6 separate regions of the Homo sapiens genome follow, and regions 1, 2, 3, 5 and 6 are each linked to region 4. The links come from fine-mapping of genetic effects on gene expression. A gene starts in region 4. Each other region holds a variant in brackets. All regions are shown on one strand. Distances are between the middles of the regions.

Region 1 (5,244 bases), 140 kb after region 4:
GCAAAAAGGAAAAGAACACAACAAGCATCAGGTGTGGAGTGCTGTAATGACAATGACATAGTGTGACATAGGGTGTGTGGGTGGCCAGGGAGGCATCCAGGAGGAGAAATAGCTCAGCTCAGGTCTCAGTGATGAGAAGGACCCCAGGGTCCCCTGATGCTCCCTCCCCTCCGCCTTCCCCAGGAGAGGGCAGCCCCCTGTTAAAGACTCTCCAGGCTCCATGTATTTCTCCTTCAGAGCCCTTCTTCCCGCTGCCATTTTCTATTGATTTTTGTGATTATCTGATTGTTATCTGAGACCCCCACTAGACTGTAAGCTCCACGAAGTGGGAAGTGTGGCTCATTTTGCTTACCATTGCCTGGCACAGAACAGGCACACACTTACTATTGGCTGAATTAATGATTCATGCTACAAGCAAGTGCAATGAATGCTGAATCCTGCTTGGGGCAGCTTAGGTAGCAGGAGGTTAAATGCACCTTTCTGGCCACAGAACTGATTGAGTTAGCATTTCTCGGACGCAAGCCCAGTGTGAGGCCTGAGAAGGTCCTGGAACGGGGCAGGAAGCCCAAGCAGGAGCTTGCCTTCCTCCCAGAGGGACCCTGATCCCAGGGCAGTGGCTTTGGATTCATCTGGAACATGGGACTCTGCAAGCTTGGAAATGGGTTTTGTTTGCTAAGCGGAATTTTCCGGCCCTCAGCCGAGAAGCTGGAGAAACTGGCTCACTGCTAATTTCATTTTCCCAACTCACTAGCTTGGCAAGGCCTGGCTCCCCTAGCTGCAGTCTCCTGGAACCTCATATCCAGATCCCCTAGCCAAAGAAAGAAAGCTGTGACTCACCAGAAATGTTCATTGCTATTTTCTGGCCATAAAAAAAGAAAATAGATACATACATATGCAAAATTTCTAACGTGATGTCTTAGTTCAGCAGCTTCTGCTTGCTGGGTCGACGCTTGCATGAAAGATTGGAGAAGCGGAAGGGTCACTCTGAGTGCCTTGGCCGAGGGCACTGGCCCTCATTCATTCTGATGTCTTCCAAAAATGAGGCTGCAGAAGACAAAAGTGGCTGCTGGCACAGAGAGCTGGATCTCAGGTCAAAGGGGTTCCACTTTCCAAAGGGGCAAACAACCCCAGGAACAGGGAAGGCAGAGGCTCAAGTTTTCTGCAGCCTGGCGTCTGGCTCTGCGGTCTGCGGCCCTCGTGCTTCCTCCCTCCTGCAGTCCCATTGTGAGCCAGATGGGGGCAGGATGGAGTGTGTGAGACCCTGCAGGCCCCTCCAGCCTCACTCTTCACCCTCTTCCTCCTCTGCCTTGCCTCCCACTCCAGCCAGGCTGTTCTTTACTTAGTTCCTTAAATGCACCAGGCTCTCCGCCCTGAGGCGCCTTTGCCCATTCTGTTCCCTCTGCCTAGAGCCTTCTCCCGCCAGCCCACCTGCCCAGCCCCTTTCACTAGCGCCCTCCAACTCTTCCTTTGGAGCACAGCTTAATGACCTCTTCCTTGGGGACACTTTAGTGACCCACAAATCAGGCCAGCCCCCTTATTACAGGCACTCATGGCACAGGCTCCCCTCTGTTCCAGCACATTCTGCACTTCTAACTCTACCCACATTCGTGGGCTCATGGTAGGTGTCTGTCTCTTCACCAGACTGTCTGCTCCATGAAGGCAGGAACTGTGTCTGTTGGGCTCAAGGTTGTGTCCCTGGGGTCTGATCTATACAAAATATTCAACAAAAATGTATGGAATGCATGAACTGCTGAAGAATGACTGCAGAGCTCTCTTCTGGCATTTAAGCCCAGAGTGACTCCATGGTGTGAGTGGCCAGGCTACAGGGAATAGGTGGCCTGCCCGGAGTCCACAGCTAGCATGGCAGACGCCGGTGAACACCCATGCCCACGTCCAGGTGGCTTTCTGTTCTCTACTGCTGTGCTGAGTCCCACCTGTGGGCCTTCTTCTTTCAGATGTGGTAGAGCCTGCCTGGTACCATTGTGGCCAAGGCCACACATGCTAGCTTTCTACAGAGCAGCTCTTGACCCTGGCTGTGGACAGTTCACCCCAGCCTTTTAGACTACAAATGACCTGCCCCACAGGAGGGAGCCAGGGCTGGGAGAAGGTGGGGGTGCAGACCCAGCAGTTTCCCATGCTGGGATGGACCTAGAGAATGGGCCGCTGATCGGACGGCAGGCCTGGGACAGCATCTCAGAGGAGGCCAGGCTGCACATTGCCCCATCTTGCCCTCTTTTAGGGAAGCAGGAGGGGAGGCGCCACCGCGGCTTGGCCCTGCCCCAGCCCTCCGGCCACAGCCTTGCCATGCTTCCCGGGGATTGACCTCTTCTGCCATGTGGCCACAGCATTTGTAAAGCCTTCCTTGTTGTTCTGTGGTTTTAAATAGCATCCAACTCCTTGCTGCTGGCTTCCATGTTTGTCTCTCCAGCCCAGATAGCTCCATCTGGATGCCCCACAGCCTTTTAGACTCGTCGTGTTCGACTCGAACTCATCATCCTCCCTCCCCGCCCCACCCTTGACCTGCTCCTCTTCATCTCCACAGAGGCTCCTTCTACTCCCCCAGGTGCCCAAACCAAAAACTGGAGAGTCATCCTGGACATCTTTTGCTCTCTCTCAACTTCCAGCCCTAACTCCATCCCGTCAATCTCCCTGTCCAGTCAATTTCCTACCTAAGCCTTTCTTGAATCCCTCAGTTTCTCTCCCGGCCCCTGGCTCTGTACAGCAGCCAGAGTGAGAGTTTGAAAGTGCAGTTTTACCCTTTCACTCCCCTTCTGTAAACCCTTCAAGGTCTGCCTGCTGACCTCAGGACGGAGCTTGAACTCTAATGAGAGTTAAAGGCCCTTTCCCAAGTGGCCCCTGCCTCAGTCTCCATGTTCACCTGCTGTCCTCACTCTCCTACCCCAAAACACCATGCTTGGGCCCCCTCCCTACCTGCTCCTCCCTCTCCTGCTCCTCCCTGGGCCTTTGCTCATCACATTTCTCCCCTTTGAAGGCTCCTCCCTGTGAAACTCCAGTCCGGCTTTTAGTTCTCAGTCTAGAAAGCGTTTCCTCCAGGAAGCCATGCATGACCAACCTCACCACCAGATCTGGGGAAGGAGGCTCCTCTCTGCTCCATAGCCTCCTTCCC[A/G]TGACTGCACTGATGAGGCTGCCTCATCACTTTCTGTTCCTTGTGAATCTCCTTACTCAAGTGGAAGACTTGCAGGGCAGGGTCTTGCAGCCTTGGTTGCTCCTGCACTCGCAGCACCTAGTCCTGCCCAGCACAGACACACAAACGCAAGGAGTGAACGAGGGCTGGAAGGAATCTTCACAGCAGCTGCTCACTTCAACTTGAGTCTTTGGCTGCTTTCGGGTAACATCCTCCTCCTTGCCTTGGCTCGCTCTGCCTCCTGCAATTCTGTCTTATACCGCACTGCCTCCTGGCTTGCAGCTTCTGATAAGGACAGCGCTGTGCTCTCTGCCCTTCCTCTCATCTCATCTCTCTGGCTAGATGACCTAGTTAATGGTCCCCAAACTGTCCCAGCAATTCCCCATCAGTTCCAGATCAGTTGTCTTTTTCCTTCCCTCTGAAACTCACCTTCTGGCTGTGGCTTCCATAATTTTGCACAATTTAATTCCCTGGTGCTGTTCACTTCTTGCCTCCCAGGTTCAGCTAAGCCCCTGAAGTAATTTAGGTAACAGCTCAATTATCTCATCTCTCCTTTAATCTTTCCATTTCCATCACCACCTAGGAAGCAGTGAAAATGAGATAAGCAATGCATTTTCTGTCCAAACCTACTGCTCCCCTTGCAGTTCTTATCTCAGTTCATGTCATCAGCATCTACCCAGTCGCCTAAGATCTGAGCCTCGGAATCACTGTCTGCTCCTTCCTCCTCTTTCTGCTGTTTTCCAGGAAGTTTCCAAGAGGATCTGCTCTCCTGTTGAGAAATCTCTCAAGTCCATCCTTCGCTGGCTACAAGACCACACCCAGGCCTCACTATTTCTCTTTTGAACTAAGATTACCTCCTGCCTGGTCCTCTTACCAAAAGCCCCATATCCCTGCTCATCCACCCACCCACCTACCCATCCATCCCTTCATCCTCCAATCTGCCTTCCATGATCATGCCAAAACACATGTTGGTTATATCCTACCTCTGCTGAAATAACTTCCATGACTCCCCACTGCCCATAGCAGACATTCTTATTTATTTTAGAAACTGGGTCTTGCCTATTACTCAGGCTGGAGTGCAGTGGCATGATCATAGCTCACTGCAGCTTCCACCTCCCGGGCTCCAGTGATCCTCCCACCTCAGTCTCCCAAGTAACTAGGACTACGGGTGTGTGCCACTATGCCCAGCTAATTTTTAAATTTTTTGTAGAGACGGAGTCTTGCTATGTTGCCCAGGCTGGTCTTGAACTCCTGGACTCAAGTGATCCTCCTACCTCAGCCTCCCAAAGCCCTGGGACTCAGGCACGAGCCACTGCACCCGGCCTAAAGCAGGCATTCTTAACCCTGGCTGCACATTAGAATCTTCTAGAGAGTATAAAAATATGAGTACCACGCGCTACCCCCAGAGATTCTGATTTTGTCTTGGATGGGTCCTGGGTCTTGGTGTTTTTTTAAAAGCTCCCCAGTTGATTCTAGTGTACAGGACAGGTTGAGAACTATGTGGTCTAGAAGATAAGGGGTCCCACCCCCTTAGTCTGGCAGTCTCCCCCAACATTGGGCCTTTAATCTGTATCCCCAGCCTCATGTCCTACAGTCCTCCACTAACACACTCAGAATTCCAGCTCTTCTGAGCTACTTCACTATATTTGTACCCACTGGTCCTTCTACCCACAATTCCATCCTCTCTCTGACTTCTGACCATTTGGAAAACTCCTACCCATCCTTCAAGACCCAGCACAAATGCAGTCTTTTTTCATGGGTCTCTCTTCCATAGCATCTGCTACATGGCAGGCACATTGCTGGGTGCTGGACGTGATGACACAATAGAAGTGATCCCTGCTCTCAAAGAGCTCACAGTAGGGTGAGGGGGAGGGATGGAAACTCCTTAAGGTAGAAGTTCTGTAACTTGAGTATGCATCCAAATCACCTTGAGAGTTTGTTAAAACACAGATTCTGGGCCCAGCCCTAGGGCTTCTGAGTACACGTAGTCTGGGGCTGCCCTGAGAACTTGTATTTTCAAGTTCCTAAGTGATGCTGCTGCTGCTGGTTCAGGGGCCACACTGAGAACCACTGCCTTAGCGTGTGGTCAACGGGGTGTT
Region 2 (5,244 bases), 22 kb before region 4:
CTGCTCTCAAGAAGTGTAAAGTCTTTTGGGAGAGCAGGTGTGGAAACAGATTAGAGTGGAAGACCTTTAATCTAGAAGGCTGAACATCAGAGTTATTCTAAAAGGATATTAAAAATGATCACTTGCATAAAGACAGACATATAGACCAATGGAATACAATTGAGAGCCCAGAAATAAGCACACACGTATATGGTCTAATGATTTTTAACAAGGGTGCCAAGAACATTCAGTGGAGACAGAATAATCTTTTAACAAATGGTTTTGGAAAAACTGGACATCCACATGCAAAAAAAAAAAAAATGAAGTTGAACCCTTACCTTACACTATATACAAAAATTAACTCCAAATAGTTCAAAGACTTCAATGTAAGACCTAAAACGATAAAGCTCTTAGAGAAAAGTAGGGGAAGCCTTCATGACATTGGATTTTGCAGTGATTTCTTGGCTATGACACCAAAAGCACAGACAGCAAAAGAAAAAATAAATCGGACTACATCAAAATTTAAAACTTTTGTGCATCAAAGGACATAATCAGAGTGAAAAGGCAATCATGGAGTGGGGAAGATATTTGCAAATCTTATGTCTGAGAGGGGTTAATATCTGGCTTATATAAAGAACTCCTAAAACTCAGCAATGACAAAAACAAACGACTGGATCAAAAATTTGGCAAAGGACTTGGATAGACATTTTTTGAAAGAAGATACATAAATGTCCAATAAGCACATGAAAAGATGCTCAACATCACAAATTAATAGGGAAATGAAAATTAAAACCACAATAAGACAGGGTTCTCTAACCCCTGTTAGGAACTGGGCCGCAGAGCAGAAGGTGACTGGCTGGTGAGTGAGCATTACCACCCAAGCTCCACCTCCTATCAGATCAGCCATGGCATCAGATTCTCATAGGAGCGCAAACCCTATTGTGAACTGCACATGTGAGGGATCCAGGTTGCGTGCCCCTTATCAGAATCTAACTAATACCTGATGATCTGAGGTGGAACAGTTTAATCCCAAAACCATCTCCTTGCAACCTCGTCCTTGGAAAAGTTGTCTTCCGTGAAACCCGTCCCTGGTGCCAAAAAGGTTGGGAACCACTGCAATAAGATACAACCTTACACCCATTAGGATGGGTACTATCCAAAACAAACAAATAGACACTCCCCTGCCCCCAAAATAATAAGTGTTAGTGAGGAAGTGGAGAAATTGAAACTCTTGTGTATTGTTAGTGTGAATATAAAATGGAGCAGCTACTGTGGAAAAAAGTACTTAAGTTCCTAAAAAAAAAATAAACAGAATTATTATATGATCCAGTAATTTCACTTCTAGGTATATACAAAAAATAATTAAAAGCAGAGACTCCAACAAATAGTTATACCAATATTCATAGCAGTATTACTCATAATAGCCAAAAGGTAAAAGCAACTCAAGTGTCCATTGATGTATCAAATTTTGTTTTAAAACTTGATACATATATACATTAGAATATTATTCATCCTTAAAGAGGAAGGAAACTCTGACCCATGCTACCACATGGATGAACCTTATGAACATTGTGCTGAGTGAAATAAGCGAGTCACAAAAAGACGAATACTGTAAGATTCCATACTTGTATGAAATACCTAGAGTAGTCAAATTCATGGAAACAGAAAGTAGAATGGAGGCTACCAGGAGCTGGGGTAGGAAGGATGGGAAGTTTAGGGGATCCAGAGTTTCAGTTTGGGATGATGAAAAAGTTCCTGAGATGGATGGTGGTGCTGGCTGCACAACAATGTGAATGGCTTAATGCCAAAGACCTGTACACTTAAAAATGATTGAGATGGTAGATCTTGTGTGTATTTTACCACAAGTTTTAGAAATTTAAAAAACTTTAAAAAGTGATTACTCACTTAAAAATCACACCACCGTAACGACTGACAACATTTTCTACTACGAAGGGATGGTGCAATCCAGGGGGCTGTGAATGACCTGTGGGTAAGGTCCTAGCTGCCCAGTAAAGGCAGGTTGTAGTGGACAATGTCCAAACATTGCAACAGATTTGTAGCAACTGAAGTTGTAACCGGTTTTGGACATTCATCTGTTTTGGCAGGTCATATGACTTTAGTTTGATCGTTGTGGTCTTTTGTTATTAAGATAGCCATATTCCAGAACGACTATAATTCCAGAATGGAGCAGGTCTCAGACCTTCCATGCACATTATCTTCTGTTGTGATGACAATGTGAGAAATGCCATAAAAGATAGAGATAGGTGCAGGGTACCTATTTGTTCATTCATTCTTGAGACAGGACAGAGGTGTAAATTACTGCTTCTTTGCTACATCCTCTGCCACGCTGTGCTTTTTTCTTAGTGCATCATGCTTTGGCTGTAGGGTTTTTCATCTTATTAATGGGGCACTTTATGTTCAATGGGGAAGCTAATTTTCCTAAGTTGGGTTCCCTGGAGAACAGACCCCAAAGTGGAGATCTGTGCACAGGTTTATGAGACACCTCTCAGCAACAACAACTGTGAGGGAGTGAGGGTGGCAGGCTTGGAAGAGGCCTCAGCCAATCCCATGGGAAGTTCTGAAACCGGGAGGGTCCTTCTGAATTATCCACAGGGAGGTAAGGGGGTGGGATCCTCTGCCCCATGGTCTCGGACATAGGCTGTCCTGGGGAGGGAGAATGATCTGGGGTGAGATAATGCTCCTTGGCTCAGGACAGTGCTTGAGGAGTGTTTTAGCCATGAGACCTCAATAGCCAACACTTTATTTATTTATTTTTTTGAGACAGGGTCTCGCTCTATTGCCCAGGCTGGAGTGCGGTGGTGTGATCTTGGCTCACTGCAACCTCTGCCTCCCTGGTTCAAGCGATTCTTGTGCCTCAGCCTCCCAGGTAGCTGGGATTACAGGCGCATGCCACCAGGCCTGGCTAAGTTTTGTACTTTCAGGTAGAAACGGGGTTTTGCCATGTTTTCCAGGCTGTCTTGAACTCCTGGCCTCAAGTGATCTGCCCGCCTTGGCCTCCCAAAGTGTTGGGATTACAGTCACGAGCCACTGGGCCCGGCTGATAGCCAACACTTTAGGCATTTGAGGGAGTGTGAGCCTTAGTCCAAAAGCCCAGGCAATGAAAGAAAAACAAAACAAAAATCCTCTGCAGGGGGATCTGGGCAGCACAGCATACACATACATGCTGTACCAGTCTTCTGCTTTTGTCTTCAGCGGTTATTGGTACCAGAGGTAAGGCATTTCCGGGAAAGGCAGCACA[G/A]AACAGTACCAGAAGCATAAACAGGAATTGACTTAAAAAAAAAAATCTCTTGCTTAAATAATAACAGTAAAAATGGAAAAAAGAAGGATGAAACTCCCACCTCCCTTCTGAATTACTTGTTTTCACTTGCTGTGTTATTGTCTGGTCAATATCCATCTGTACTCATCAATTTTACACACTTATGATTATAGGTATTGTGTATATGTGTGTATATAATATTTGTATTATGTGTATGTATATAAAAGTGATACTTCTTTTGCTGATCACAGTGAGTTTTTTTAAATGAGTTAAATTTGATAGAGAGAAACAGGGATATTAAATGCACAAGTCGATTAGTTTTGATAAGCGTATGCACTTGGGTAACTACCACCCCAGTCAAGGTAAACATTTCCATTACTCCAGATGGTTCCCTTGGGACCCTTTCTGGTCAATCTCCACCCCCATAGGCCACTATTGTTCTGATTTCTATCGCCATGGATTAGTGTTGTCTGTTTTTGAATTTTACATTAAAGGAAGCAGAGAGGATTGACTCTTTTGATACACATATATGTAAAGATTGACTTTTTTCTTTCCATAATACTACTAATGTGTTTTTTCTAATTATAAAATATGTATACTTTTATTATCAATATTACACAATACAGATTAATATTATGCAGCCTTCAAAACAACTGTGCTCAGACCCATTTCCTATAGGTGTCCACTGAATTTTGGTATATTTTCTTACAGTGGTTCTCAAAGTCTAGTCTCCAGACTAGCAATGTCAGCAGAACCCAGAAAGCAAAATTTTCAGCCCCACCCCAGATCTACTAAATCAGAAACTCTGGGGGTGTAGACTAGCCATGTGGTTTAAGAAGCCCTCCAGATGTTCCTGACACATCAGTATTTGAGAACCGTTTCCTTATGATTTCCTCCCTCCCTCCCTTCCTCCTTCCTTCCTTCCTTCCTTTTCCCTTCCTCCCTCTGTCCCTCCCTTTCTTCCTTCCTTGCCACATTTTTGTATTCTACTTTTTCATATGACACCTTATTAGAAACATTACTATGCCATGACAGGTAATGAGTTAATTTATTCAGACTAGGAAAAACTGGTGTGGTATTTAAGTGTAGAAATCAGGGTAGATATGGCCTGATTGGCCTTTTGCCCTCTCTTGGGATAACTGTTTCCCAGCCTGACCACATTTGTGAAAGGCCTCCTTACTCCCTCTCATCCCCACACAGCATGAGGATGCTGGAAATGTTTCTGGGTGGAGAGGTTCAATTGTATCTGGGAAGACTTACAAATAAACCTTGTCTCATTTATAGCAGGTGAATAAGAACTTTGTCCAGGCAAATAACACAGAAGGCTGGCACTTGTGGTTCCCAAATAAGAATTGGTCTTGAGGAGTCTAGGTGGGTGGACATGGATGTGCCAGTTTCAGGGGAGACATCCTGAAGGAAAGATCACTATGTGGCTCTGCAGGAGACACTGTCTGGGTCCTTGGTTGTGGTAGAACAAGGACCCCTTCTCTTGCCTCATAATACAGCACTGCCGGGGAGCACTGTGTCCACTAGTGGACTCCAGACTGGCAGGCCTGACTTTGGTCCTCCTTGGGAAGTGCCTATTGACTCTTCTTGTTTTCAGATGACATTTGTTAGGCTGAAAGAGGAGAAGGGACTTTATCCACAATCATCCCCAGAGTATAGCCTTCCACACAAAGGCTTTCTATTCATCCTGCAAGAAATGACCTTTCAAGATATGACCTGTGAGCACCCAGAGATTGGGGAAGTGACTTGCCCAAGGTCACACAGTGGGCGTGTTCCGGCCAACACTGAGATTCCAATCCTAATCACCTAACTCCAAATTCTGCCGTCTTTCCACTCTGTGGTGCTGCCTCCTGGAGCAGGCAAGGTTTTGTTCTTCTTCACAGTGGACAGGGCAGTAGGAAAAGGGACAGCGTTGGATGTCTCAGGGAGCAAGAGGCACCTATATCAGAACTTCTGGGGAAAAGGAAGGAAGAGAACATGAA
Region 3 (5,244 bases), 150 kb after region 4:
TTTACAGGTGAGGAAGTAAAGCGTTGGGAGGCTGCAAGGAGAACCCAGACTTGGTTGCTTTGGGCCCCTTGTCATTACCAGCAGGAGGCGGAGTGGCTGGGCTTTTGGAGTTTGTCTCAGAACTGCCTATCACTGCACCCTGGGCAAGTCTCTCTGAGTCTCAGTTTTGTCATCTGGGAAATGGAGCTGGTAACAATGCCAACTTCACAGGGGGCCGCTTTAATATGCAGAGGTGAGCCAAGTGTCCAGCCCAGGCCTGGTATCCAGTAGGTGCTTATTAAATGGTAGCTTGCCAGTGATCCCTAAGAATAGAAACCACTCCCCATGTCTGAGCTGGGGTCCTAGGGCTCTACCAAGCCACAGTCTGGCAGTGAGGCTGCGGGAGATGGGAGCGGCTTCTAGGCCAGGTGTCTGTCCTGTGCCTATCTTCTGGCTTGGGCCTGGGCAGCTGCCCTGCCTGCCAGCTTCTCACTGATGCGGGAGGTGGTTTGACTTAATAACTTACCTTTTCATGATTCTCCATTTCCCCTTTTGCAGTGGAGTCTGTTCTTATGACTAGAGGAGCACTTCAAATTCCAGAAGCCCCTGCACGTGGCCCTTGCTTTAAGTGTGAGATGTGGATCAGCCCTAGCAAAATTAAACTGAATGAGATCCAGGAGGCCATCGTTAGTGATCAGGACTCTTATGGTGGCAGACAGCAGAAATGCAGCTTGCCCCTCTTTAAGAGAAAAAGGGACCTTACTAGTTATAAGCCTGGCTTCGGGCATGCGGGGCTTCAGAGGAACAAAGGATGTTACTAGAACTCTGTCTTTCTGCAACTCTTTCGGCAACTCTGCTCCAGTTTTCTCTGTTTCCCGTTTTTTGTGGGGAGGCGAGGGGCTCTTTTACAGTCAGCCCCACCCGCTGGCCGTGTGATAACCAGAGGGCCCCTGGCATCTCCAGACCTACATCCTCTCTGCTTCAAGTCCCTTTTCCCAGAATGGGATATTTTGGTCTGTGATTGGTCCAGCACGGGTCACGTGAGCACACCGGGTGCTGCGTCTGTGGCTGGGGCGCTGCAGGGCTCTGCCTCGCCAGGCCGGGACACATACCCATCCCTGAAGCCAGATGCACACTCAGTTCCACCTGACCCATGGGACTGAGAATGGGTGAGGGGTGGTTCCCCAAGAAAAGTAGGGGTGCCTTTACAAGAAGAAGGGAGAAATAAAACAGGAGATGGCCACTGGACTCTCTTTTCCAGCCCTTTTATCATCCTCTACAGCAGCTGTACGCCTCTGCTAGATGTCCCTCAATAAAGAACGCTCCTTACCTCTCAGGATAGCTCATTCCATGTGGGAACATCCGTGATCAATAGAAAATTCTCCCGAATGCCGAAATGGAATCTTGTAGTGTTTTCACTCACAGGTCCTGATCATCCCTAGAGGGCCAAACAGATCAAACCTGTCACATGGAAACCTGTCAGTTGCTTGAAGGCAGAAATCGTGACCATCCACTGGTCCTTCCTGCCTATGGGCAGATGTCCCAGGTTCCTTCCATCGTCCTCCTGGAATTTGGCTTTGTGTTTCTGTCCCCATATCAGTCGCCCTGCCTGGGTCATGCTTCAGGTCTTCTCTGACCTACAGAAGTTACTATTCAGAACCAGTCGGAATACTCTAGGAAGGTCTGAGCAGCTCAGGGCAGAGCAGGGCTGTCCAGACACTTTATTTCTCATAAGACCCGTGATGGTGTTTGCCGCTTTGATGATTGTTTTACCACATGATTGACACAGTGAACTCTCAGTCAGCAAAAAGTCCCTTGTATTTTTGTACCAATTGTTTTTTAATGCAGCCTTTGACTTCTGCTTTTGTGTTTCTTCATATTTACCCTTCTAAAACTTCATTTTGTTAGATTCTGGTCAAATGGGATCGGTGTCCTTATTTGAGTGATTTTTCAAGCAGCAGGAGGGTAACTGCCAAGAGGTCCTAATTCCTCCTCTGTGGGAAAAGGCTGTTTTGTAACTTCTCCATGTCTTCCTCCTCGGTGTCACCTTCTGTGTGTCAATTCTTTGGCCTCCTGTTTGCTTCTTCTCTGTCTTCTTAGTGAGAGGTGGAAAGTGGGGCAAAGAGTTGAGAATAAATTCACAGTGGAAGTGCCCCTGGAGTTGGGTGTTGACGGATGAATAAGAGCCTGCTGAATGGGGAAAGGAGGTTGGGAGTTCAGGGTCTGGAGAAAGGTAAGAGCCAGTGGGTAGAGTTT[A/G]TGGTGATGGAGGTCGAAGGAAAAAACTCAGAACAGAGGCTGAAAAATGGCAGTGCACAACTGAGTTTGGCTCTGACGTATAATCTTCTTGGCCCTTACTATGTTAAGAAAGATTAAGTTGACATTTAAACATTTAAAGATTTCTCCCAAAATCACGATTTTGTGTTTCTCTTGCAAAATCAGAAGCTTTGACTATACCAGCCCCACATGGACTCACACGTGGCATCAGCTAGCGGTAGCTGAGTGGCTGCCAGCCCCGTCAGCCTAGGCACGCTGTCTCTGCCACTCCACTGACCCTGCTGGCGTATTTTACCTTACTTGGCTCCTTGATTTTGCCTCTCTGGCCCTTTGTGCATTTGAGTATTTGGCCTTGTCTTTAAACATTACCTCACTGCGGTTCTTAAAATCTAGCATGCATCAGGATCACCTGGAGGCTTTATTAAATGCAGACTGCTGGGCCCCAGCCCCACAGTTTCCGATTCAGTAGGTTTAAGGTGGGGCCTGAGAACCTGCATTTCTAGCATATTCCCAGGTGATACTCATGCTTCTGGTCTGGGGACCATACATGGAGAATGACTCCTAGTCCAACCTCCTCATTTCACAGATGAGGAAACTGAGGCTCATGTTTGGCAAATGCAGAGTCTGGCTCCAAACTCAGGTTTTCACCTCCAGCTCCAGGACTAAAGCCACTATCCCATGTGCTGCACCAGGTGGGAGGGTCAGTCTGCATCCCACTTGCTCTCCTGCTCCCCGCTAACCGTTTCTGAAACTGGGTATTGAAGCCCATTCCATTTCCAGCCTCATTCTGTTTTCTTCAGCTTCCTTAACAATAGCCATCCATTATTCTATGCTCTGATGCCTGTGGAATTTAATTACTTGCCCCGGCCGTGATGTGAATTTGATGGTTGGAAGCTGTGGTGTTGGGAGGAAGCACTAATGAGGAAAGACTCTTTGCAGAGAAGCGAGGCCATGTGGGGGGCTTGTGTTTGAAAGCAGCCATTCACTGTGTGGCAACAAGGACTTGGTCTTGAGTGAGTTTTCTCGTTCCCGCCTCGAAGATGTCCATCGCATTTTATAAATAAATCAGGGCTTTTTGTGTTCAATAATTGCCTTGCTTTGTAACCGAGATCAAAAGCACCCACTGGCCTTGGATTCAAAGCCAAGTTTATTTTTTATTTTTTGGTTGCATGAGAGAGTGGAGTGAGTGTTTGCATGCTGGAGGGTCCAGCTATGAGGCCTGCATGGGGAAGGAGGAGGGAGAGAGCAGAGTGGGCACCCTGCCAAGGGATGAGGCGCCTTCAGCCAATCTCCACCGTCTCCCAGGGAGATGAAGTCGCGAACGGTCACTCTGCCAGTAGAGCCTGCTAAGCCGGTCATCATCAGGCACTCCCAACTCATTTAATAAACATATATTAGCACTAGCATGACAGTAGGTAAACAATAATTATAGATAACAAACAGTGAGCAAACGCCTGCAGTGTGCCAGGCTCTGGGCTAAGCATTCTATACACATTTAACTCTTCAAACCTAAGATGAAGATGCTGCCATTATCCCATTTTACAGATGAGGAAACTGATGCCAAGAAAGGTGAGGTTAGGGTTTGAATCCAGATGTGTCCAATCCCAGAGCCCATACTCAGTGGTAAAGGCAGGTGCCAAAGAAGATAGAGTCAGGTGCAGTGGCTCACACCTGTGATCCCAGCACTTTGGGAGGTTGAGGGGGAGGATCGCTTGAGCTCAGATGTTTGAGACCAGCCTGGAAAACAGGGACACCTTGTCTCTACAAAAGGTAAATTATCCAGGCGTGGTGGCATTTGCCTGTGGTCCCAGCTACTCGGGAGGTTGAGGCAGGAGGATCATTTGAGTCCAGGAAGTTGAAGCTGCTGTGAGCTGTGATCACTGCATTGCACTGGGTGACAGAGTGAGACCTTGTCTCAAAAAAATTAATTAAAACAAAGTGAAGTAGTTAGATAAACGACTCAGACACAATGTCCTCCTCTCCCTCAAGGAGCTTCCAGTGCAGTCTGAAAGCAGAGACAGGTGTGAAGCGGTAACTCATTCAGATACAGCAGAGAGGGATGGTTATCACCACAGAAGTTTGTTCAGAGGGAGAACTTCTAACCTGGGAGGGGGAGGTTTGGGTAAGGTTAGAGGTGGGGGAAGCAGCATTTGAAGCGAGCCTCAAATAATTAGGATCTATCACCAGGGTTCCCTGGGAAGCCAGCTCTGAGACTGTATTTCGGTGCAGGGGTGTATCAGGGAGGATACTTGGGATTCCCTCCTGCAGAAAAAAAGGGAGGAAAGTAGGAGTTAGCAAACCGAGAAGTCGGACTGTGGTGCAGTCTTAAGGATGCTGGGGAGCTGGGATGGCCCTTCAGAGTTGTCCTGAGCTACAGCGAGGAGGCTGAGCCTTTAAACCCTCCTGTTGGGTAGTCATTGGATGTGGGCTCCCTCTAAAAGAGGCTGTGGGCTTGAGCAGATGATGCCTGTGCAGCCAAGGCAGTTCCAAAGCAGCTGACATCTGAGGGAGTCCATTGGCAGCACTTTCCTGCAGCTGGGGGAATACGTTCCCCAGGCCCGAAGGGGATCTGAGTGGTGCGTCACAGCGTCCACAACAGATGTGCAGAGATTTGGGGAAGGTGGGAGACGGAATCCACACCAAAGCAGAGGCCAGTGGGAGGAAAGTCTGGGTCCTGGATCACGAAGAGGTGGGTAGTCTAGTGCAGTGGCCAAGGCTGGGGCCGGACTCTGATTTCATCTCTGTTTTGCCACTTTCCTGCTGTGTGAGCTCCACCTAATCCCTTAAACTCTCTCAGTTTTGTCATTTTCAAAGTGGAGCTAATAATAGCCTCCATCAAAAGGTTGTTGTAAGGACTAAAAAATGATATGAAATGTCTACCTGGTACACAATAAACAATCTATAAATAATATTATAGCGATTAGGCCAGGCATGGTGGCTCACATCTGTAACCCCAGAGCTTTGGGAGGCCAAGGTGGAAGGATTGCTTGA
Region 4 (5,244 bases):
CTGGCTTGGCTGGGCCCTGTATTAGTCCATTTTGCATTGCTGTAAAGGAATACCTGGGGCTGGGTAATTAAAGAAAAAAGTTTTATTTGGTTGGGTGTGGTGGCTCACTCTGCAATCCCAGTACTTCGGGAGGCTGAGGTGGGAGAATTGCTTGAGACCAGCCTGCCCAACATGGTGAGACCCCCATCTTGAGAAAAAAAAAAGTTTTATTTGGCTCATGGTTCTGCAGGCTATACCAGCATAACACCAGCATCTGCTTGGCTTCTGATGAGGCCTCAGGAAGCTTCCAATCATGGTGGAAGGTGCAGGCATATCACATGGTGAGTGAGGAAGCAAGGAAGAGGAGCGAGGTCCCAGACTCTTCATCAACCAGATCTCTTGTGAACCCATTACCGTGGGGTGGACACCAAGCCATTCCTGAGGGATCCATCCCCATGATCCAAACACTGCCCACCAGATCCCACCTCCAACGTTGAAGAACACATTTCCACAGCTCTAAAAAAGAAATTATGTCTGTGAGACTTCTGCTCTATGCCAGGCACTTTAAATCCATGATCGTGTTGGATCCTGTGCCATGGGTGGATCACTACCCTATGACAGATGAGGAAACCAAGACTCAGAGAAGGTGTATTCCTCCATGAGCCCCACACACAGCTGGTGCACAGCAGAGCCAGAAGGTAAACCACCATCTGACTTACTCCAAAACCCAGCCTCTGCCAGGTGTCAGCTCAGAGCGCTATACCATCTTTGGCCTTGGTTTTGTATGGCTTTTTGTGACATTTTTGTGACATTTCCATGGCTCAGCACCCTACACATAGGTCTCCTAGAACTATTTGTGGATTTAAAATTTTAATAATGGTGAAAATAGCTGACATTTACTGAGTTCCTGCCACCAGTGGGCACACAAGCAGGTTGAGCCACTTGCTCAAGTTCTCATGAGCTCAAGGCTCGTGGCAGAGCCAGGAGAGGATCCAGTCTGTCGTACTCCAAGGTGTATGGTTTTAACTTTCATTTTTCTTGAAGAATCTAGACTTGCAGCAGGGATGTTAATCTCTGTGCCCATCTTTCTCAGGTAACGTGGGGCTTTTGTGGGTTTGAACTAGTTAGAAGAGGACAGCAAAGGGCCTGAACATGTCCAGGGGAGGCGTGAGGCAGTGGGGTGATGGCAAGGGCTGCGGGCCAGTGGCATCTATTTCTGAACTGGTGACCTCCTGCCTCCGGGTACAAGGCTATAATAAGCCCCATGATTCACCAGTTGGACTTCTCCCTGTCGTTGCTCCAAGCAGGTCTTGTGCTTTGCCACCTGTGGGCCCCAGCTCATGCTGTGTGCTCCAGGAGAACATCCTGCCCCGCCTCACTCCCTTTGCCATACTTGCCTGGGGACGCCCACTGCAGCTGCCATGTCCTCTAGGAAGCCTTGATGGACTAGCATGGATAACCTATTCATTTCTGAGTCCAAACAGAATCATTTATTATAGACTCAGAAAAAGGCAAATGGAAGACTATACCTATTTTGAGAAATTTGGGAACATTTATCTCAGGGGACAGTCAGGGGCCAATACACATTAGTGACAATCTTAGCATATGAAATTCCAGTGATCAGCGACTCTTTAGTGCTTGACTCAGTTTTTACAGAATGAATCTTATTCTACCTTAATTCCACATGAAATGGGTTTGGTCTCCCTTGTAGAATGCAGGAGACTTTGAGCCTGGGTTGGAAGGCTGGTGACCTTGGGTAAGTCACTTCCCATATCTGAGCCTCTGCTCCTTTGTCTGTGAAAGAGTGGTGCTTATACCTATGTTGTTAGGTTGTTGGGGGATATAAAAGGGTAATAACAGTTGCTACTGTTTATTGAGTGCTTGCTATGCACCAGAGACTGTGCTAAGCTTAGCTTTGCATTTTTCTTTGATCTTTTCAAGAGCTCCTCTCATTCCCGATGTTCCTTACCCTGCAATATTTTTTCCCATAGCACTTTACATTTTGTATGATATTATATAATATACTTACTGTGCTTATTTTTGGTCTTCCTCTCCCAGGGCCTCTTGCCTCGTACAACTCCAGGGGGCACCATTCACAATGCTTTCTACTCCAGGGGTGCTTTTTACTAAGAATATTAGCATGAATGGTGGAAACTGCTGGAGTTGTGTGATGTGGAGCCCCGGGAGCTTCAGAAGGTCAGGGATTTTTGTGTGTGCCAGTTCTGATCATTGCTGTATCCCTGTACCCAGAACGGTGCTAGACCTATAGTAAGCATTCAGTAAATATCTGTTGAAAGAATGAATAACATAGCCTCCAAAGAGAGCTGATTTTACTATCTAGGAAACTGAGGCTCAGTCTGACTTATGAATTTGCCCAGAGCCCCACAAGCCAATGACCCACCCAGCTGTTCTGCCTCCAGTGTGCCTGCTCTGCGTGGCTTTGCTAAGCTGCATGCCTTTAACTCCTCGCATCGTCTCTGCCACCAAGTAACTGCTCAACAAATATTGATGCTTTTCCCTACATGGGTCAGGCCCTCTGCTAGACTATCCCAGTAGAGTGACAAACCATCATATAGCTGTTGATTCCAGAAACTGAATTAAATTGCACAGTGCAAAAAAAGGGAGGATCTTAAGTTTTTGGAAGAAAAATCCCTAACCCAAGTGCTAATGTTTGGAGTTTGCAGAAGCCTCTCAAGACTTACCAACCCGATTACTTTTCCTGCTGCCTTCCCTTTTGTGAGCGTTTCTTCCCCTTTTTGCTTGCAGTGAGTTCTGCTCTCCTGTAGGCTACAATGTGTCAGTTGTTATAAAATCCGGGAGGCGGAGTCTAGTGACGTGAGCAGTGGGGGAGAGCTCAGCCAGCCCTGCAGGGCGAGCAGTCCAGCCTTGTGTTCACCGGAGCTTAAGCGTTGCAGCAGGAAAACTTCCATCTCGCTCTCCTGGCTTTGATCCTCACTGGACATCAGACCAGAGGCACCGAAGGGAGGGAGGATGCGAGATGACCGGCCCTTTGGCAACCTGACCATCGACTTAGCAGAGCCTTCAAAAGCAAGCCAGGGGCTGGCTGCACGACCAAAGAGGCGCCGCGCCTCTCGTGGATGTGTGTGTGTGAGTGATCCAGCGAGTGTGTGTGCGTGTGAGGGTGTGTGTGTGTATGCCTGTGTGCACAGCACAACTGTGTGCGTGTCCCGGTGAGTGTGCCTGTGCATGCGTGAGTGTGTGTACGTGTGCATGTGTGTGTGAGTGCGCTTGGTTATTACTATTATTATTATTTTTGGAAGAAAAATCTTTGAAAATCTGGGGCAGGTTACTGTGCTCCTAGGGTGATTCTTCTTTTGCAAGAGGAGCTGACCAGGGCAAGCTACTAGAGCCATTTCTCGGCAAGTAAAGAGATTTTTCCTTCCAGAAGGAGAAGGATTTTTCTCCCTGCTCTGCAGCCAAGTGAAAGAGATTAGTCCCTAAACCTGTGAAATCGACCAGAGCTGTGTGATTACCAGGGCTTGAGAGAGGACTCGAAAAGAAAAGGAGAAATAAATCAAACAGCCTGTCAGTTCCTTTGGCCACGTCAGAAGATGTCATCTCAAACTAAGTTCAAGAAAGACAAAGAGATCATTGCTGAATATGAAGCCCAAATAAAAGGTGAGATGCGGGCTGGGAGAGTTTTCCTTCTCCTCCCCTTTCGTTTTTCTCTTGTTCTGGTTCCCATCCCCCGCTGCCCCCCGTTTTCCTCTCTGCCATTATGAAATGTTATGCATCAATAATCTTTTTGTGAGGAGTAACAGTGGCAGCCGCACAAGTCCGGACTGGTTTCAACTGCAGATAGCGCTGGGGCTGGGAGTGTGGATTATGGAATGGGCAGCAGTCTCTGCATTGCAGGTGTGTGAGGAGGATCCTATGCCTGACTTTAGGAGTGTCGCTGATACCCCATCATCTTGGCGGTGACATGTCACTCTAAGGCCATTTTGATAGTCACTACCTCCACCCCTTCCCTGCCATGGTAAAAGCCCTTTAATATTGGGGTATTTTTTTACCATCTGCTCTTTTTTTCCTCCCCCTTTTTGGTTTCTGTTGGTGGTGGTGGTTTTGCCTCCGCCTCTTTCTCTGGGCCGGAATTCACATGCATGTGCACAGCGAGGCAGCATCCCTGGGCGGCACTTCTTTGTCGGTGTCTCTGGGCTGGCCTGGGTTGCCATGGATTAACTGTTATGGGGCATATTGATCCAGACTAATGCAGGCATTTGGGCATAAAAAGGGAGCTTGGTGCAGAAAATGTATTATCTCGCAGTGTGCAGCCCAATCACTCTGTGCCCTGGCGTTTAGGTTCATCAGCTTTCATTCAAAGCCAACACCTCGGCATGCCGTTTGGGCTGGTCAGCGCTGCCTGGCTTCCGGGGTTCCAGGAGAAGCCTGCCGGGAGGGCGAGATGACCTCTGGCTGCTGGTTGCACCTTCTGTGCCACCGGGTGTATACTTCTTTCAGAAGCCGCTCCCTAAATCCACGCTAGCCAGGCGAAATAGGAAAGGGAACACAATTGCATGGCTAAATGCGGGCTTGCCGCATCCTCATTCAGGCCAGACTGGGGCTTCTCCCACCCCTACACGTTCTAGGCTCAGCTTTGGCAAGGAAAATCTAAAAGCTCCATCCAGCAGGCTCCTCCTTTCTCTGAGGATGTGCCCTGTGGGAAGCCTGGGCTCGTGCCTCTTGGCGTCCGCTTTCTTTCTGGTCATGGTTCTCCTTGCTGCGACACAGGGTGTGTTGTGGCCTCTCCTAGAAAGAGTAAAGACAAAATGCATCTTCAGCGGACCTTGAGGCCTATCTTTGAGGTTATGCACAGGCTGTTGAGCAAGTTGGGTATTTGGGGCTCAAGCAACCTGAGGTTGCCACACCTGCTTCTGGGCGCTGCTGCAACTGAAGACCCAATGACCCAGGGAGCTGGGTGGCCTCCTTAAAAGCAGCGGGAAGGCTGGGCACCGCAGCTGCCATACACGCTTCAGATGCTTGGGAAACTTTGGGAGTGGAGCAGCCACGGGGGGAGGGATCTGTTTTTTTTCCAGTCTCACCAACAGTCTTTTTGCCTTTTAGTCCTGGTCAAAAGCCCAGCGTGCTCATCACCTCTGGGCATATCCTAGGGCAAGAGGAGCAGAAAACCCTGCTCTTCCCTGGTCTCCTGTCTTTGGTTTTTCAGTTCAATGTGGAAAACAGTGACTTACGATGTCTCAGCCTTGCTGAAAATTTAGAAATAAGCGCTTTATTGGTCAGAGATTT
Region 5 (5,244 bases), 80 kb after region 4:
GGACATAGAGACAGACATACACAAGGAGAAGGCCATGGGAGCATGAATCCAGAGATACGGCAGGAGACGAGAAATGCCACATTGCAGGCAGCCCCCAGAAGCCAGGACAGAGGCATAGAACAGATTCACCCTCACAGCCTTGGAAGGAACCAACCCCACCGACAAGCACCGTGTCCTCTTCCGGCCCCCAGAACCGAGGCAATACATTTCGGCTGCTTAAGTCACTCAGTCCGAGATGCTATTGGGCCAGCTCCCAGAAATGAATATAGTATTTGGATCCCATCAGAGCCTCTCACCTCTGAGTATGGGTTGGTGTACTTTAGCTATCTGGTTCCTTCACATCATATTTAGTTTGGGCACACAGGGGCTATTTTGAAGCATCCAGGCAAAGATTTTAATAATAATAAAAAAACTTTTAATAAGACTTTAATAAGAATTTTAATAAGGTTCTGATGAGAAACTCTTGGATGTCCTTCCAAGTCATGTAGAACCATGCGAGGGATAATAAGACTCATAATCCCACTTATTTTTATAGGGCTTCAGTTCACAAAAAAAGTCCTTCTCATTTATTATCCCACTTGACCCTCAGGGCAATCCTGTGCTGTTAGCACTGTGGGCATTCCCATTTTGGAGAGGAGAGAACTGAGGCGCACAGATGTTCCAGAATTGTCTTAAGTGGCAGAGTGGGGATTTAAATGCAGGGCTCTGACCCAGCCTCACCCTCTTCCCATGCGCTGGAGGCTGCCTCTGAACTTGGAGCAGATTGGATGTTTCGAGGGCAGCTTGGCCTCTGCCTGGGGCCCAAGGAGTAACACGTTGTCTTAATTCTTTTCCAGTAGTGAGGGAGAGGGGACCTCAGGTTTCCAGGACTTTTTCAGGTTCTCATGGGGCTCTGTGGAGGCTGCTGGGGCCTCAGGGGTTCTTGGGTTTCTCTTCCACAATATTCTGTTGTGGGGCCCAGGCCCTGAAGGGTCAGGCCATCTATAGCAGGGCACAGCTGGCGGAAGCTGACTGCCCAAGGCCAGGATCAGCACTCCTCAGATGCGTGCGCTGTCCTGCTGCTGAGGGACAGAACAGGCCTGAATCCCATGGCCTTGCTCTGCCAGCAGGCTGGAGCGTGAGGACACTGTGTGACCCAGGCCTCTTCATGGCTCCCCCAGCGCTGAGACAGTGCTCATTACACACCAGCAAGTGAAGGGCTTGGGGGAGAGGAGCAGTGCTGAGCTGTGGCGTCCGAGGCCTGAGGGCAGGTATCTGTGGTGTGTGACCTGGGCATGTGCCCTCACCTCCTTGGGCCTCAGACCCACGCTTGTGAAGTAGCTCCATAAGAGCATCTGCCTCGCTGGGCGAAGGTGCAGAGGAAAGGGTATGCTGGGAGTATTTTGCAATGGTTGATTTCAGCATCATTCACAATCAGAACCACCGGGAATGTCCATGAGTCTTCAGGGACTGTGTGCTAAAACCTTCTCCCCATTTGGAGCCATGAAGACCATTTGAGTGCGACTTCCTAAAAAGCAGCCCACCTCTGCTCAGGTCGCCTCTCTTCTGTTGTGTGAGAGTGTGAGTCACATTCTTTTGCTGCTGGAGAGTTTCTTTCCCCTGGAACCCTCTTGCCCCCACCCCGCTGCTCCCCGCACTACTACTCCGAGGCTGTCATGTGAGTGTTTTCCACGTAAAAAAACACAGAAAGTTCATTCAAGCCAAATACTAAGACAATGTTACCAAGTCTCAAGTGTATGGAGTTCATTGCACTGACGTGATGCAGGGCTTCGGCAGGCTCAAAAACTTCCCAAGTGTCAAAGAGTTTTGGTTTGTAGATTTGAGAGGTGTGAGACTGGGGGCGGTTTCTTCTACGGACATTCACCCACACATCCCACACACCAGCACTGTCTAAACGGCAGTGATCAAATCTTCTATCATTTCATCTGTGCTTCCTGTGGGGCGGTGTCAGGTGCTTTACATAGATTAAATCTTCATTTTGTCCTCTTAACAAATGTCAACACAGGCTTGTCTGACTTTAAAGTCCAGGCTGTAAGCAGTTAGGTGTACTGTCTCCCAGTTGGAAGAAACTCCAACCCAGCCCCCTTCATTTTACAGGAGAGGAAACTGAGGCTCAGGAAAGGGGACCATGACTTGCCTAGAAAGTGGGGCAGGAACCCAGGAACCCTGACTTCCAAGGCTTTTCCCCCCTAACCCATCCTCCCCTTCAGAAAGCACTGATCCCCTTCCTTCTGTACCAGAGGGAACTCCAATTTAGTGATTCTCTAGCAAGCAATAACATTCCAGGTCCTGGAGTAACCTGAGAAATGTGGTATTGGTTAATTCAAAGCCATTGTCAACTTCACAAGGTGTTGGCCTAATTGATGCCAAGTATGGCTACTTTGAGTTTCCCAAGTGTTGAGACTCATAAGTTTGGCACTGGAGGGAATTATTTACTCACTTATTGTGCATTTCAGCTTAGCAGAAATTCATAATTAGTAGTTAATAGTGTGGGAACTTCTCACTGTTCCTGGAACATGCAATGACATGTAACTCCTCTACCTTTGTACATACTGTTCTCAAAGCCTTGAATAGTCTTCCTCCCACGCCCACCTTTTCTTTGCTGCTTGAATTCCTACTCACCCATCAAGAGCAGTTTTCTCACTCATGTCCTGCTACCCCACCTCCAACCCTGGACATAAACAGATATAATGTTTTTACAATCTGCCTCTCCCACCAGACTGTCAACTCCACAAGGGCAGGGGCTATGTCTCATAT[A/G]TAATGATTATAATCATACTTACAAAGTGCTTCTTTGCAGTCAGGTTCTGTGCTAAGCACTTCCTGTGCATTATTTTATTTCATGCTCCCCAATATTGTAAGATAGATACTATTACTATCCTCATTTCCTAGATGAACAGATAGATCCACAGAGAGGCTCAGAAACTTGCCCAGGGTTACACAATAGCTGAACGAGCCGGGATTGAAATCAGTGCTACCATGTACAGTTGTGCTGGCCATGCACTGCACAAGGGTCCACAAGGGTGGAAGGATCAGTTGAGTCTGAAATCTTGCTCTCACCTGGGTGCAGAGCTGTGACTGTTGGGAGGAAGGGACACCTTTCTCTAACTCCTGGAGAGGCACCACAGGGTCTGGCTCCAGGGTTCATGCTCCTAACCACTGTAACATATCAGAATATAAATATGCATATTCATGTTGCCACTCTGTGCCAGTCTGGCTGAGTAGGGGCCCAAAAAATGAATGAATGAGAGATTATGAATCAATAGGTTTTTCCTTTTTCTCCCTTCTCTCTTTCCTCATATCTGCAGGACCAGTTTGTTACTTAACAGCTTACTTGGTTTAAGAAACACATCTTTTAGTTGGCTTGCCTCCAAGCACGTACGAAAAGATGGCTGAAAACCCAGAAAGAGGTCTCCATTTGGAATGTCTTTTATTCTAAGTAATTTCATTCTGCCACCTTTGGGCTTTTGAAAGTTGTTAAGCGGATGTTAAAAAGCGCAGGTGAATGGAAACAAAGGATTCATTCTGAAACCAGCTGCAGGAACTGCACATCCTGCTCATGCGTGATGTGCTGGGCCTTGGTTTCAGTGAGGGAGGGCACACGTGCACTAGATTCTCCTGCAGGGCCTCAGCTCCAGTCCTGAGCGGGGTGGGGTTGCTTCTGACCAATCAGGTGACTTCTGAGCACACTTGGAGCAGTTGCTAACAGCAGAGACGATGGTTGGGCTCCTGCCACTGGCAAAAATGGGGCTTTAGGATGAAATGTCTGAGTTTGTCCAGATCCAAGCAAAGGACTGGAGAGGGCCTGGGGCCAGGCTGTCTTTGATGGGCTATTGGGCTAAGTCAAGACTGCATTTTAGACCTCACTTCTGACTTCGTTGCACTCCTGTTGACAAAGACATGCTGCCACTTGCTAGTTATACCCTTGGATGTGTCTCTTAACCTCTCCGGGTTTCCTTTTACTGCCCTGCAGAAGTGGGGAGAGTGTCACCTACCGCATAGACTTGTGGTGGGGAATCAAGGAGCTAATGTCTGTGAAAAAAGCACTTTGTGAATTGGAAATGGCTGTACAAATGCTATAGCTACCATTATTTGTCATTAGGTGGATTTAGTTCCCTGGAGGTATTTTCTGCTTCTGCATGCACCATGGAGTGCGCTTGGAGGCAGTCTTGAGGGAGGAGTAGGGTGGGAAGAAAACAGCGAGGCATGCTGAGGACTGAAAGATATCTAGGCTGGGCTCTTGTGTAGAAGTAGAGAAAATAGCTTTTGCTTTCAATCTGAAGTGGGATGAGTTGATGGCCTTCAGCAGATGCTGCAGAGTAGAGTTTAGGAGCTGGATTCTCCTCCTTCCTGAAGTTGCACCCTGGACATCTGGGGATGTTTCTTAAAACCAGCACATCCCAAGGACAGAGCTGGCCAAAAGCTAGGGGCTTGGGAAAGGAATGCGGTCCCAACTTCCTGCTCCCCCCCTAGGCGTTGACAGCAGGGAATTCAGCTCCCAGAATTTAGGAGCAAGGTCAGTGGATGGGCCATGGATGTGGGCATGTCAGCATGTGTGCAAAGTGAGGCATAGGCCTGGGGAGGGTTGCTGCAGGGGAACATAGGTAGAGAAGAGGAAGATAAATGACTCCTGGGAAGCAGCAAATGTCAAATGTGTAAGTACAGAAGGGAACTAGCAATGGAGAATGAGAGAGAGAGTGAAGAGGCAGTGAGGGGAAACCAGCAGGATGAGTCAGGGCCTCTGTGTCTTGATCCAAATTGGAATTGTGGGGAGAGTGAGCAGTCAAGGCAAGGCTATAGTGAGGGCAGGTAGGATGGAGGCTGAAAAAGCCACTGCAGGACCACCCTCAGCCCTGGAGGATCAATCCTCCCCCTTTCTCCTGCCCAGGAGAATTGCTGTCACAGGTGAGCTTCTGCTGATGGTGGGAGAGCATCATGTCTCTCAAGGCTGCTGGTTCGCAGAAGGATTAAGAGCCCGAGGACTAGGGGTCTCCAGGAGGCTGAAGAACAGGGATAGTTGAGTCAGGTAGAAACAGAGGGATGAGAAGTTGTAGCTAGAAAGAGGGGGTTTCTAGTTGAGGATTTCAGAGGTAGGGCAGTTCCTGGGAGTTGACAAGGTCAGGGTGGGGCCATATGAGTAAGTTCTAAGAAGGGATGGAATGGAAGACAGTTTGATTAGTGAGGATGAAGAAATGAAGTCAGGGTGATAACTGGTCATCAGCATGGATATTTCTGTGGCCCTGGATG
Region 6 (5,244 bases), 170 kb after region 4:
TGAGGCACTGATTGTTCACTTGAGAGAGTCATGGAGAATAGGAAATGGGGATAGCTAATTGGGTTCATAGAGCACCAGTACAGAAATCACAGGACACTGTTGAAGGTCCCCAGTGAGCTCTGCACAGAAGGTTCTCCACACCCTCTCGAAGCTGGAGGGAGGTGTAAATAGGTCTCTGGAATTGCCTCCGAGGTTTCTGCTGTCTGTTAAGGGGTCTGGCACAAGCAGAGACCACCTTCAGAGGGGTGATTCTTGGCAAGCCAGGCCCGGAAGCTGAGAGAAAGGGCTGTGGGGGGTGAGGAGAAGGAGCCTGAGAAGGCATCATTCTGATATTAAGCCTTCATGAGCTACCACTGGATTCAGAGGCTTCTCACCTCTGCAAGGGTGAGAGGAAGGCTGTTCTTTGCCCATTAGCAGCTGGTCCAGCTATGAGGCTGAAGGAACTGGGAGGAAGAGCAGGAGGCTGCAGCTGCTCAGGGAGCCAAGATCACGGCTCCCATTTTCGATACAGAAACTCAACACGATGGTCTTGGCAAACAGGGAGAATGTCTTGGTCCTTTTAGGTGTCTATAACAAAATACCGTAGACTGGGTGACTTATAAACAACAGAAATGTATTTCTCACAGTTCTAGAGGCTGGGAAGTCTAAGAGCAAGACACTGACAGATTTGATGTCTGGTGAGAGCTTGCTTCCTGGTTCATAGAGGGCAATCTCTTGCTGTGTCTTCACATGGTGGAAGGGGCAAGGTAGCTGTCTTGGGTCTCTTTAAGGGCATTGTATTAGTCTGTTCTTACATTGCTGTAAAGGAATACCTGAGGCCGGGTAATTTGTAAAGAAAAGAGGTTTAATTGGCTCACAGTTCTGCAGGCTGTACAGGAAGCATAGCACAGGCATCTGCTCCTGGTGAGATCTCAGGAAGCTTCCAATCATGGTAGAAGGTGAGGGTGGAGCAGGCATTTCACAAGGCAGGAGTGGGAGCAACAGAGAGAGAGTGAGAGGCGCAGGTGCCACACACTTCAGAATACACCAAGGGGATGTCACTGAGCCGTTCACCCCCATGATGCAAACATCTCCTGCCAGGCTCTGCCTCCAATGCTGAGAATTACATTTCAGCATGAGATTTGGCAGGAACAGAGGTTCAAACCATATCAGGCACTAATCCCATTCCTGAGGGCTCCACCCTTATGACCTAATCACCTCCCAAAGACGTCACCTCCTAATACCATCACATTGGGGGTTAGGATTTCAAAATAGGAATTTTGAGGGAGACACAAACATTCAGATTATAGCAGAGAATATTTACCAAAATCATAATCACAATCATAAATAAAATAACAAAGAATTCTAGACTCTTCAAGCTGCATGGAACCTAGAGATAATTTTCTCATTGTTTTCTGAATTGTGTCCTTAAATATCATGAAAGCCACTTCATGGAAATAGGACTGTGGTCAATGAAACTACAGACTATACCTCCTTCTTAGAAAGTCTCCATGCAAGGAAGGACATGAAAGGCACTGAGAAGTCCTGCATTAAGAAAACTTGTCTACCTTTGTTCAATTAGCTTTTTCTCAAATGCATGTAGTCTTAGAAGCCCCTGCTCCCCCTTTTTAGCATAGCATCTAGCAGTGATCTTCAGACCATGCTTTGGAAAGTATTGTTTTAGTTTAAGCTTTTTATTTGATAGGTGAGGTAGCTGAGGCTCAAAGGGGGAAGTGATTCTCCAAGGCCACACAGCCAACAGTGGAAATGAGAAGCTAGATCTTTTGCCTTGTGCCCCAGAGGCCTTTCTGCCAACCTGTACTTCTCCTGTTCCTCATTGGAAGAGACATCTTGAGAGTGTGGACTTGCGACTGTGTCAGGATCTAGGCAATGGTAAGATGAGATTAGGCAGACCAGGGGACCAGCACTGGGGAGGGCTGAGCTGAAATTTGGAGTCAAACTAAGGTTAGGGCATCTGTTGTAACCAGTCCTTGAAAGCTAGGAAGGCGATGTCCAAGTGGGTGCCAGCTGCTGATTCTCAGTCAAGGAAGACAAGCCTTCAGGAAACATCTTCTGGAGCAGTGGTCCCCAACCTTTTTTGCACCAGGGACCAGTTTTGTGGAAGACAATTTTTCCATGGACCAGGGTGGGGCGATGGTTTCGGGATGATTGAAGCACATTATATTTATTGTGTATTTCATTTCTGTATTATTGCATTGTAATATATAATGAAATAATTATGCAACTCACTGTAATGTAGAATCAGTTTGAGCCCTGAGCCCTGAGCTTGTTTTCCTGCAACTACATGGTTTCATCTGGGGGTGATGGGAGACAGTGACAGATCATCCTGCATTAGATTTTCATAAGGAGCGTGCAACCTAGATCCCCCACATGCGCAGTTCACACCAGGGTTCGAGGACGTATGAGAATCTAATGCCACCACTGATCTGACAGGAGCTCAGATGGTAATGCCCGCTCACCCACCGCTCACCTCCTGCTGTGTGGCCTGGTTCTTAGTGGGCCATGGACTGATCTGTGGCCTGGAGGCTGGGGACTCATATTCTGGAGGACCTGAGATTTTTCCTGGAGGACTTGAGAATTATCATTTACTCTCAAGAGGAATTGGGATGCCAAATCATTGTTTCTCAAAGTGTGTTCTATGGAACCCCACTCTGTAGCCATTCATGAGGATTGTGCAAGGAGCTCAGACCCTGGTCATACCAGCTTAGTACACGTAGAATTAAAGAAAAATTCTGTGGGG[C/T]TTCCCCACATCTTTAATATGCTACTGTCACTGTGAGTCACTGTGGTAGGGAAATGATGTGTAGGGTTCTCCAACTCATATGATCAGGGAATCCCATCTGCAAGGAACCTCTCTCTGTGGGTTTGTTTCATGGACATAGTTGAGGAATTTATGTTGTTGTAGATCAATGAAATTTATGCTGATTTCTGTACCCCTTCTGACCCCACCCGAAACATTCCTGACCTTTCGCTTTTGAAAAGAGATTGGTAAATGTAGCCAGCAAACTTCTCCCCCGCTGACATTTGTTCTTCCACATTCCAGAGCAAGGAGATTGGCCTGCAGATGCACGAGGAGCTCCTGAAGGTGACCAATGAGCTCTACACAGTAAGTTCTGCCCAGGCTCACTGCTGTTTTGGGATTGGGTCTCTGTCTTCATCACCAGAGCTGGAGGGAAGCAAAACAGAGGTCTGGAATGACCCCAGGCCTTTTTTGCTGCGTTTTATGCTGAGTGACAGTGGGTCATCGTGTCAGGATGTAATGACTCACAGCCCCAGCTTCTGATTCTGTACATCTGGGGCAGGGCCTGGGCTTGTCTAGTTTGTCAAAATTCACGAGAGATTCAAACGACCTGCCGCTGTGGGGCGTGTTACCTGCAAGAACAGAGGGCACAAAGTCAAGGCCGGGGGAGTGTGAGTGTGAAGGCTCCTGAAGGCAGGGATGTGAGTTTTGGAGTGAGGCAGCACAGGCTCCAGCAGAGGCCCCTCCTTACCAACTGTAGGACCATAGGCAGGTGGGCAGTTTGTCTGGGTCTCAGTCTGTGCATCTGCAAAATGGAGCACGGTTCCGAGGATCACGGGAGGTCATGGGGTGAGCCTGCATTGCCATCTCCAAGGCATAGTTTCATAACATCACAGTGTGGTCCACGGCTGACTTTGTTACCTGCTTGGAGTCAACATCTAACTGTGCTTGAGATGAGTTTTAGAATCCAAGAAGGTGAGCAAATGGGGACACAAACACATGAGGTGATGATGCAGGAACTTTCAGACTGTGCTTTGAGGAGCCTACGGCTTCCTCAAGAGGAATGTGGGGACCCCATGGAGAGATATGGGGAGTGGGGTGGGTAGACCCAGCAGGTAGAGCTCCAGGCCCCTCAATCCTACCCAATCAGAACAGAGAAGAATGGTTATGTTTTAAATAGATAGGTGCCCTATATAGCATTTCATGAAAAGTGTGTTTGTTTGTGTGTTGGGGAGAATCTGCTGGTAAAATTGTATTTGAAAATCCCTGGTATGAGGGGAAAGAACAGCAGTCTGTGAGAAGCCCCTTCTGTTTGGTTTTATTATCTTTCTGTGTTTATATCCTGTGTGGCCAGCAGGTGGTAAATTCCTCAGAGGCACTGAGAGCCTTTGCGGGAGGGCCTGGACCTCAGGTCAGAAAGCCTGCCTCAGATCCCAACAAGCTACGGAACTCTAGGCAAGGCATTTTTTTTCCTGGGCCTCAGTCTCCCAATCAGTAAAACGGGGCTGAGAGTTCTTAGATAAAAGTTGAAACTTTTAATTCTGTGATTCCAAATTAAGAAGCAAAACTTGAGTTGTGGGTAGTTTTTAGTTGAGTCATTCTTAGGGTAAAGGAAGAATTGCTGCTTGAGAATGCATATTGCTTTGCATCAGCTGGTCACTGGGGGGCAGAACAGCCTGCTGGGTTAAGGCACAGATTTTGAAGCCAGAGATCTGGGTTCAAATCCAGGTGTTAAGTAGAAATACTAGTACCTGCTTAGTGCACGTCCCTGTGAGAATTCGAGGAGATCCTGTATGCAATGGATGCTTAGAACATAGAGAAAAAAAGAGCATTCTGTACCAGAAGTTCTGAGTGTCACTATCATCATCATCACTATCATTGGCTCCTCCTTGATGGGTGTGAGGTAGGCTGTTGTACATACTCACGGTGGGGGGAAGGGTGGTGATAAATAATGCAAGCCTGGTAAACCGAATGGGATTGTCGTGCTCAGAATTCTGCAGCGAGTTTGGCTAGACCAGGTGCTCCCCAGTCTAGGTCCTTTTTATGTTCCTCAGGCTCCACTTTGAATGGATCACTTTCCTCCACAGTGTCAAAACAACTTAGCCCCAATGTCCTGGGACCCCCCCATTCATTCCCACCTAGGTCTCTTACTTTTGCTGTGACCTCCAGCGGGGCTCCTCTTCTTGGTGCCCTCTATTTACACCAAATACCTTCCCCCTCTGCTGCTTTTTCCCTGCAATCCCTGCTGTCTATACCTACCTGTTAGTGTCATGCTCATTTTTCAAACTCAGACCAAACCTCGCCACCTTCAGAATGTTATTACCTCTCGGCTTCAAGTTCCTATGGCAGATGTACCAAAATCTCTTGTATCTTTATTGTCTATATCCCGTCTCCCAACATGTTGGAGTATAAACTCCCTGGGAGTCAGGTCTTGGCTGAGAAACACTGCATGAAAGGCCCAAAGGCTCCATTTGAACCCAGCTGTGTGGCCTTGGGCAAGTCCCTTC

Which allele goes with the higher level. Positions count from the first base shown, and alleles are read on the strand shown. Sizes are in standard deviations (SD) of each study's normalised expression. Not every link is listed here.
For the expression in macrophages of the gene that starts at base 2,857 in region 4, G is the high allele of the variant in region 3 and A is the other (large effect, 1.0 SD a copy in Alasoo 2018).
For the expression in monocytes after Pam3CSK4 of the gene that starts at base 2,857 in region 4, T is the high allele of the variant in region 6 and C is the other (moderate effect, 0.73 SD a copy in Quach 2016).

What was found. PIP is the estimated chance that this variant, and not a neighbour inherited with it, causes the effect.
Region 1: its variant is the best candidate, but not a certain one, in a credible set for the expression of SRGAP3 in subcutaneous fat (GTEx, PIP 0.62).
Region 2: its variant is the best candidate, but not a certain one, in a credible set for the expression of SRGAP3 in naive CD8 T cells (Schmiedel 2018, PIP 0.56).
Region 3: its variant is the best candidate, but not a certain one, in a credible set for the expression of SRGAP3 in macrophages (Alasoo 2018, PIP 0.67).
Region 5: its variant is the best candidate, but not a certain one, in a credible set for the expression of SRGAP3 in sun-exposed skin (GTEx, PIP 0.55).
Region 6: its variant is the best candidate, but not a certain one, in a credible set for the expression of SRGAP3 in monocytes after Pam3CSK4 (Quach 2016, PIP 0.89).

Annotation. Positions count from the first base shown.
Region 1 is chr3:9,107,562-9,112,805 of GRCh38, reverse strand. The region is part of intron 2 of SRGAP3 (SLIT-ROBO Rho GTPase activating protein 3); the gene reads left to right. Among named protein-coding and RNA genes, the nearest start is that of SRGAP3-AS2, 82 kb to the left of the region's middle. The variant A/G (reference allele first, on the strand shown) is at 3,128.
Region 2 is chr3:9,268,847-9,274,090 of GRCh38, reverse strand. It overlaps a transcript of SRGAP3 not described here. Among named protein-coding and RNA genes, the nearest start is that of SRGAP3-AS4, 22 kb to the right of the region's middle. The variant G/A (reference allele first, on the strand shown) is at 3,239.
Region 3 is chr3:9,097,223-9,102,466 of GRCh38, reverse strand. All of the region lies in intron 3 of SRGAP3 (SLIT-ROBO Rho GTPase activating protein 3), which reads left to right. Among named protein-coding and RNA genes, the nearest start is that of SRGAP3-AS2, 93 kb to the left of the region's middle. The variant A/G (reference allele first, on the strand shown) is at 2,236.
Region 4 is chr3:9,247,259-9,252,502 of GRCh38, reverse strand. SRGAP3 (SLIT-ROBO Rho GTPase activating protein 3) reads left to right here and starts at 2,857. Exons shown (of 22, transcript NM_014850.4): 1 at 2,857-3,618. The coding sequence starts at 3,552. SRGAP3-AS4 (SRGAP3 antisense RNA 4) reads right to left here and starts at 2,747. Exons shown (of 3, transcript NR_146969.1): 1 at 2,682-2,747. RefSeq lists an enhancer at 2,839-3,078.
Region 5 is chr3:9,166,789-9,172,032 of GRCh38, reverse strand. All of the region lies in intron 1 of SRGAP3 (SLIT-ROBO Rho GTPase activating protein 3), which reads left to right. Among named protein-coding and RNA genes, the nearest start is that of SRGAP3-AS2, 23 kb to the left of the region's middle. RefSeq lists an enhancer at 3,916-3,965. The variant A/G (reference allele first, on the strand shown) is at 2,758.
Region 6 is chr3:9,077,884-9,083,127 of GRCh38, reverse strand. SRGAP3 (SLIT-ROBO Rho GTPase activating protein 3) reads left to right here. Exons shown (of 22, transcript NM_014850.4): 4 at 3,041-3,103. Among named protein-coding and RNA genes, the nearest start is that of SRGAP3-AS2, 110 kb to the left of the region's middle. RefSeq lists an enhancer at 4,945-5,244. The variant C/T (reference allele first, on the strand shown) is at 2,741.